Linked DNA regions of Homo sapiens. The protein of the gene in region 1 interacts with the protein of each later gene in a pairwise test. Each region holds a gene or a part of one and is shown in the gene's direction. Other genes may lie near its edges.

What was found. The genes of interacting proteins can lie anywhere in the genome.
Region 2: the proteins of UBXN8 (region 1) and PGRMC2 interact in binary tests that used the Homo sapiens proteins (3 or more experiments, as listed by UniProt).

What each region holds. Positions count from the first base shown.
Region 1 is NC_000008.11:30,747,001-30,750,671, forward strand, and holds part of UBXN8 (UBX domain-containing protein 8), read left to right. Parts: intron 1-3,671. UniProt on the Homo sapiens protein: Involved in endoplasmic reticulum-associated degradation (ERAD) for misfolded lumenal proteins, possibly by tethering VCP to the endoplasmic reticulum membrane. May play a role in reproduction.
Region 2 is NC_000004.12:128,277,643-128,281,313, reverse strand, and holds part of PGRMC2 (membrane-associated progesterone receptor component 2), read left to right. Parts: intron 1-3,671. UniProt on the Homo sapiens protein: Required for the maintenance of uterine histoarchitecture and normal female reproductive lifespan. May serve as a universal non-classical progesterone receptor in the uterus.

The sequences.
Region 1 (3,671 bases):
GAAAATTAGCGGAGCATGGTGGCGCACGCCTGTAGTCCCAGCTTCTTGGGAGGCTGAGGCAGGAGAATCGCTGGAACCCGGGAGGTGGAGGTTGCAGTGAGCCGAGATCACACCACTGCACTCCAGCCTGGCAACAGAGTGAGATTCCATCTCAAAACAAAAACAAAAACGAAAAAACCTTAAAATTTTTTTTCTTTAAAGGTATACACACAAATATAGTTCTTTCATATTCTCATGTGATGTTTGCAAATTGCTTGTTAGAACGAACAGCAGTAGTATGGAACATAAATCCCACACCTCAGTGGTGTTTTTTTTTTTTTTTTTTTTTGAGACAGAGTCTTACTCTGTTGCCCACGCAGGAGTGCAGTGGCACAATCTCTGCTCACTGCAACCTCCGCCTCCCAGGTCCAAGCCATTATCCTGCCTCAGCCTCCCAACTAGCTGGGATTACTGGTGTGCACCACTGTGCCTGGCTAATGTTTGTATTTTTAGTAGAGACGGGGTTTCACCATGTTGCCCAGGCTGGTTACAAACTCCTGAGTTCAAGTGATCCACTCACCTCAGCTTCTCAAAGTGCTGGGATTATAGACGTGAGCCACTGCGCCTGGCCTCAATGGTTTCTTTACATACCAATACTCTAGATATTAAACTACTTTTGTATTGGCCAGAGATAAAATAGATTAAATTATGTGTTGTATTGAATAACACCTGAATCAACAGTTAATACTGGCAAGTTGGAGGAGCCGTGATTTTTTTTTTAAAGTCATACTTCTTCTCTAAGCAACTTTAAATTGCTAGGGTTTTTAAAGAATATTGGGCCAAGCAAGGTGGCTCATGCCTGTAATCCCAGCACTTTGGGAGGCCAAGTTTTCTTTTTTTAATATATATTTTTTCTTTTTTTTTTTTTTTTTTTTTTTTGCTACCTTTGGATTCTTGATAGTGAGCTTCCAATAATTATTTCTTAACAGCATTTAAGTCTGATTTACACATCATACTTTATACCAGCAGCAGGGCTGGTTATGCCTGTACTAATATTCAGACATATATTGAAAAACTAGCCTTGTCTTTTTCTACTGTGTAAAAACCTTTATTGTCAATACATTTTACTTGTACTTAAGCTAAATTTTTTTTCTTTTTTTTTTTGAGATGGAGTCTCACTCTGTCACCCAGGCTGGAGCGCAGTGGTGCAGTCTCAGCTCACTGCAACTTCCGCCTTCTGGGTTCAAGTGATTCTCCTGCCTCAGCCTCCTGAGTAGCTGGGACTACAGGCATGAACCACCATGCCCAAGAAAGGAGGATCATTTGGAAAAAATATATATATATTATCTGATGGCCCACATCTGTGGTCCCAGCTACTTGGGAGGCTGACATGGGACGACTGCTTGAGCCCTGGAGGTTGTGGCTGCAGTGAGCTGTTATCAACTGCTGCACTCCAGCCTGGGCAAGAGAGTGAGAGGCCATCTGAAAGAAAAAAAAAAAAAAGGCAAGAATATACATCTATCTGTTTTCAGTTTAAAATAAAACATTTAAGTCTATATATGTTTTTTTCTTTTTTTTTGAGACAGAGTTTCACTCTGTTGCCCAGGCTAGAGTGCAATGGCATGATCTCTGCTCACTGCATCCTCTACCTCCCAGGTTCAAGTGATTCTCCTGCCTCAGCCTCCCAAGTGTCTGGTATTACAGGCACCCACCATCATGCCTGGCTAATTTTTGTATTTTGGTAGAGATGGAGGTTTCACCGTGTTGGCCAGGTTGGTCTTAAAGTCCTGACCTCAGGTGATCCACCCGCCTTGGCCTCCCAAAGTGCTGGGATTACAGGCATGAGCCATCTCGCCCGGCCTATATATATGTTTTTCTGATTCCTTCTTTAAGTTTTAGTTAATTGACTAATTACCAGCCTTGATCACGTTGGATTCCTCTGTATCTCTGCCATTTATCTTTTGAAAATTAAAAACACAAAACGAGTAAAAATTCCAAGAGGATGGAAATCATTTTTAACCCAGCTTTGTTTCCTGTCCCTCAACATTTGCCAAATTGTATTATGCAAAGTAGGTAGTTAGATTTCTGCTCAAATAATTTTCACTTTGGTTCTTAATATAACACCAAATACTGGCTGGGTGCGGTGGCTCATGCCTGTAATCCCAGCACTTTGGGAGGCTGAGGCCAGCGGATCACCTGAGGTCAGGAGTTTGAGACCAGCCTGTCCAACGTGGTGAAACCCCATCTCTACTGAAAATACAAAACTAGCCAGGCATGGTGGTGCATGCCTGTAGTCCCAGCTACCCAGGAGGCTGAGGCAGGAGAATAGCTGGAACCCAGGAGGCAGAGGTTGCAGTGAGCCAAGATTGCGCCACTGCACTCCAGCCTGAGCAACAGACTGAGGCTCCGTCTCAAAAAAAAAAAATAAAATAAATAAATAAATAAATAGACCAAATACTATATTTTTACTTTTTCCTCCGCAAGCATGTAAATCGTAATTTTACTTACAAGTGACTAAATGTCAAGAAATAAAGAAGCACACAGTTGCACAATTTGTGAGAAATAAGAATTTGGTGTTTCAGTGAGATTATCATAGAACTAGAATTTGACACGATATTTTCTTTTTTTCTTTTTTTTTTTTTTTGAGACAGAGTCTCTCTCTGTCGCCCAGGCTGGAGTGCCATGGCACGATCTTGGCTCACTGCAAGCTCTGCCTCACAGGTTCATGACATTTTCCTGCCTCAGCCTCCCAAGTAGCTGGGACTACAGGTACCCGCCACCGCGCCCAGCTAATTTTTTGTATTTTTATTAGAGACAGGGTTTCACCGTGATAGCCAGGATGGTCTGGATCTCCTGACCTCTGATCTGCCTGCCTCGGCCTCCCAAAGTGCTGGGATTACAGGTGTGAGCCACCACACCTGACCAACACGATGATATTTTCAGTTTTATTTCTAGTTATGTAATTTTCTCTATATGGGAAACTACAACTTATACATTACTGATATTCATAATATAGTGTAGCTGATCGCTCTAATTGTAACTGTATTCCCAAGATAGTGTTTATTCTAGAATTATGCTCTGTACATTTGTTCTGGAAATGACAACCATCATGAGTTTTTTAATGCCCAAAGGAGAGTACAGTAAACCCTCTGTATCCCTGAGTTCCACATTGAGCATTTAAGCACCTGTGGATTGAGACTATTCAGAAAGGGCTGGGTGTGGTGGCTCACACCTACAATCCCAGGACCTTGGGAGGCCGAGGCGAGCAGATTGCCCGTGTTCAGGAGCTCAAGACCAGCCTGGACAACATGGCGAGACCCCATCTCTACAAAAAATACAGAAATTAGCCGGGTGTGGTGGTACGTGCCTGTAGTCCCAGCTACTTGGGGGCACTAAGGCAGGAGGCCCTCCTTGAGCCCCAGGAGGTTGAGGCTGCAGTGAGCCGTGGTCTCACCATTGCACTCCAGCAGCCTGGGTGGCAGAGCAAGACCAAGAAGAGCAACACCCTGTCGGCCGGGCACGGTGGCTCACGCTTGTAATCCCAGAACTTTGGCAGGCTGAGGCGGGCGGATCATGAGGTCAGGAGATCGGGACCATCCTGGCTAACATGGTGAAACCCCGTCTCTACTAAAAAATACAAAAAATTAGCCAGGCGTGGTGGCAGGCACCTGTAGTCCCAGCTACTCGGGAGG
Region 2 (3,671 bases), on another chromosome or scaffold:
TGACAGATTATTTCTTAATAAATAAGCAAAACTGCCATGACTACAAATATGGATAGTATCCCCTGCGTTGTACATAGTCATATGTTGAGGCCCTGGTTAGAAAGCTTTAACTCTGATTCCTCCCCCATCCTGTTTTCCACAGTATCACTATTAGACTTTAGCTTCACTTTGTTTTTTCAAACTCCACCCCAAAATTGATGAAATTATTATCTTTTTAATATAGTCCTTGTTTAAATTTACTAACATGGTTATCATTTTTTTAATTCACTGTTGTTTCTTGCATCTCATTTCTTTGGGGTTCACTTTTTATTTTAGTGAGGTGTGTCCTATAGTTTTTCACTGGCAGGAAAAAATTTTTTATTTTTCCTCACTCAGGAATAATAGTTTGGGTTTAGAATATAAAATTGTAGATTGGGCCAGGCGCAGTGGCTCATGCCTATAATCCTACCATTTTTGGGAGACCAAGGTGGGAGGACTGCTTGAGCCCAGCAGTTCAAGACTAGCCTGGGCAATATGGCGAGACTCTGTCTCTTACAAAAATATAAAAAATTAGCTAGGCATAGTGACATGCACCTGTGGCCCCAGCTACTCAAGAGTCTGAGGTATTAAGATCGCTTGAGCCCAGAAGATCAATGAGCCTTGATAACACCACTGCACTCAACCTGGGTGACAGAGCAAGACCCTGTCTCAAAAAAAAATGTAAATTGACCTTATTATACCTCAACTCTTGAGTAGCGTTATGCCACTGTCTTCCACTTGTTGGTGAGGAGTCGGCTTGTAGTTTCTCTTTACTTTTATTAATCTTTTTCTTCCTTTTGGTTGTAGTTGAGATCTTTTTGTCTTTGGGGTTTTGCTATTTTACTAGGATTTGTCCAGGTATGGATTTGATTTTATTTACCATGTACCAAACTCTACTCAAGTCTGTGGATATATTGTCCTTTTTTTTTTTTTTTTTTTTTTCCCAGAAAATTTGCTGTTACTTATTGCCTCTTCCATTATCTCTGTTCCTTCCTCTGGAACTGTTAATAGATATACATTAGGTTTTCATTCTATTCTTAATGTCTCTTAATCTTTCCTTTTGTACCATTTCTTAATAATTTTAAGCAAATTTACTTTAGTTCTTTAATCTGCTTCTGTATCTGTTATATGTGCCCACTCCTCCATGATGGTTTGTTTCTTCATGTAGTTTATATTTTTTATTGTGAACTTATTATCTTCAGTAGTTACTTTTTTTAATTTTGGAGTATTTCCTGTAAAATTCCATGAGCCCTAAGTTGTGAAAGAGGTAAAGTGCTTTGGGTATGTTGCAAAATAGGGCCTCACGTAAGTTAAAACAATGATTTTTTAAATTAAGTAATACATGCTCAAAATAGAAAATTCAAAAGGATATACAGTGAAAAATAAGTCTACTTCCCACAACTAGTCCCAGCCACCATGTTCCCTTCCATAGCAGCAAAGCACCAGTCTACGTATTGTTCTAGAGCTATTTTGGGTGCAAGTACAAGCATGTGGATATCTTCCTTTCCCCCCACACTAATTATAGTATACTATGCATACCCTTCACAATATTTTAATATCACAAGAGCCTTTGACATCAGTATAGAGAGCCATCTTATTCTTTTGAATACATGCATAATATTCTATTTTATGAATAAGTCATAATTTAACAGTCCACTGTTAACATTTGTTTTCAGTCTCCTGTTATTGCATGATGCTGCAATAAATATGTACATGTCATTTTACACATGTGTGTAAAATTATGATTATAAAGTAAATTCCTGGAAATAAAATTACCGAGGCTTGGGGTATGGATATTTTTAATTTGGATTCTTGTTTCTAAACTGCCCTTCAGAGAGGTTGGACCAATTTACACTTGATGAAAATGCCTGTTTCTCACTTCTTGCCAAAAACGTGGTATTAAGCTTCTTGGTCTTTGTCACTCTTGAGAGGTTAAAATGGTATCTCAATATTTGTTTAAATTTACATTTCTCATTTACTTAATGAGGTTGGACTTCTTTTTAAAAAGTTGAGTCATTTATGATGCCTTTTCTACAAATTGTTTATTCATATATCCTTTGCCACAGTTTTTCTCTTTTTTTTTTTTTGAGACAGAGTTTCACTCTTGTTGCCCAGGCTGGAGTGCAATGATGCAATCTCGGCTCACTGCAACCTCTGCCTGCTGGGTTCAAGCGATTCTCCTGCCTCAGCCTCCCGAGTAGCTGGGATTGCAGGCATGCGCCACGACACCCAGCTAATTTTGTATTTTTAGTAGAGACGGGGTTTCTCCATGTTGGTCAGTCTGGTCTCGAACTCCTGACCTCGGGCAATCCGCCCACCTCAGCCTCCCAAAGTGCTGAGATTACAGGCATGAGCCACTGCGCCCAGCCCTGCTGCAGTTTTTCAATCATCATATTGATCGTACAGATTTTAGGTGTTCTTTATAAAGTAAATCAGCCTTTGCCGCAAATATTTTTTCTAGTTTGTCCTTTTACTTATTTATGGTGTTTTTTTGAACCACACAAAGTTTTGGTTTTATGTATTCAAATTTATCTTTTCTTTTATAGCTGCTAAGTTATGTATTATATTTAAAGACTTTATGCACTTAAAATTGTTTTTAAAAATCTGTAGTTTTTTTAGTACTTCTGTGGTCTCAGTTTTTTAGTTCCATTTGAAATTGATTTTGCTTTAAGATGTGAAATTAGAGTCCAAATTTGGTGGGGTGGTGGGTGTTTGTTTGTTTTTGAGAAGGAATCTTGCTCTGTCACCCAGGCTAGAGTGCAGTGGCGCCATCTCGGCTCACTGCAACCTGCGTATCCCGGGTTCAAGCGATTCTCCTGCCTCAGCCTCTTGAGTAACCGGGATTACAGGCGCCCACCACCGTGCCCGGCTAATTTTTATATTTTTAGTATAAGAGACAGGGTTTCACCATCTTGGCCAGGTTGGTCTCAAACTCCTGACCTCGTGATCTACCCGCCTTGGCCTCCCAAGGGGTTGTGTTTTTTAACAGAAGGTTATCTAGTTGTCCCAACATGTTTCCCCAACAGGGGAATAATCCCTTTTTCCTAATACTTGAAGTATTATCTTTAGTGTTCATTAATTCTTATAGATATTTGAGTTCATACTATTTTTTCACCTTGGAATTTTCATTCTGCATGGGTTGCATAAACTCAGGCCCCACTCCCATAAGTGGCACGGGCCTGGGCTTTTAATTTTTCTGTCTTTTCTTTACCCCAGCCTACCCATGCACCCTGGAGTTAAGGCCATATGCTCAGTTCACAATGTTGCTGAGCGCTTTTGACAGTAGCTCAAATTTCAGAAGCAAGATTGCACTTTCAGTCACTTATAGAATCATACTATTCAAGAGATTATTTAGTTTGGTCTCAACTTCAGGCAGGTAAAATAATTTTCCTAATTTATATTTGAGGGATCTAAGGACTATGGAAATCGAGACTTGTTGATTGTGAGTGGATCCTCTAGAACCCAAGTATCTGTCTTCTTGAGAGGTATTATTTCAGTTTTACCATACTGCATTCTCTCTAAAAGTCTTGGGACTTACTGGACCTAAGCATAAAAAAATTTATTAGTTCAGTTAATCACTTTTACATATTGCCTCATTTGTTGATAGGCTGATTATAATCTTATTTGAAATAAATTACCCAATACTAAGTGTT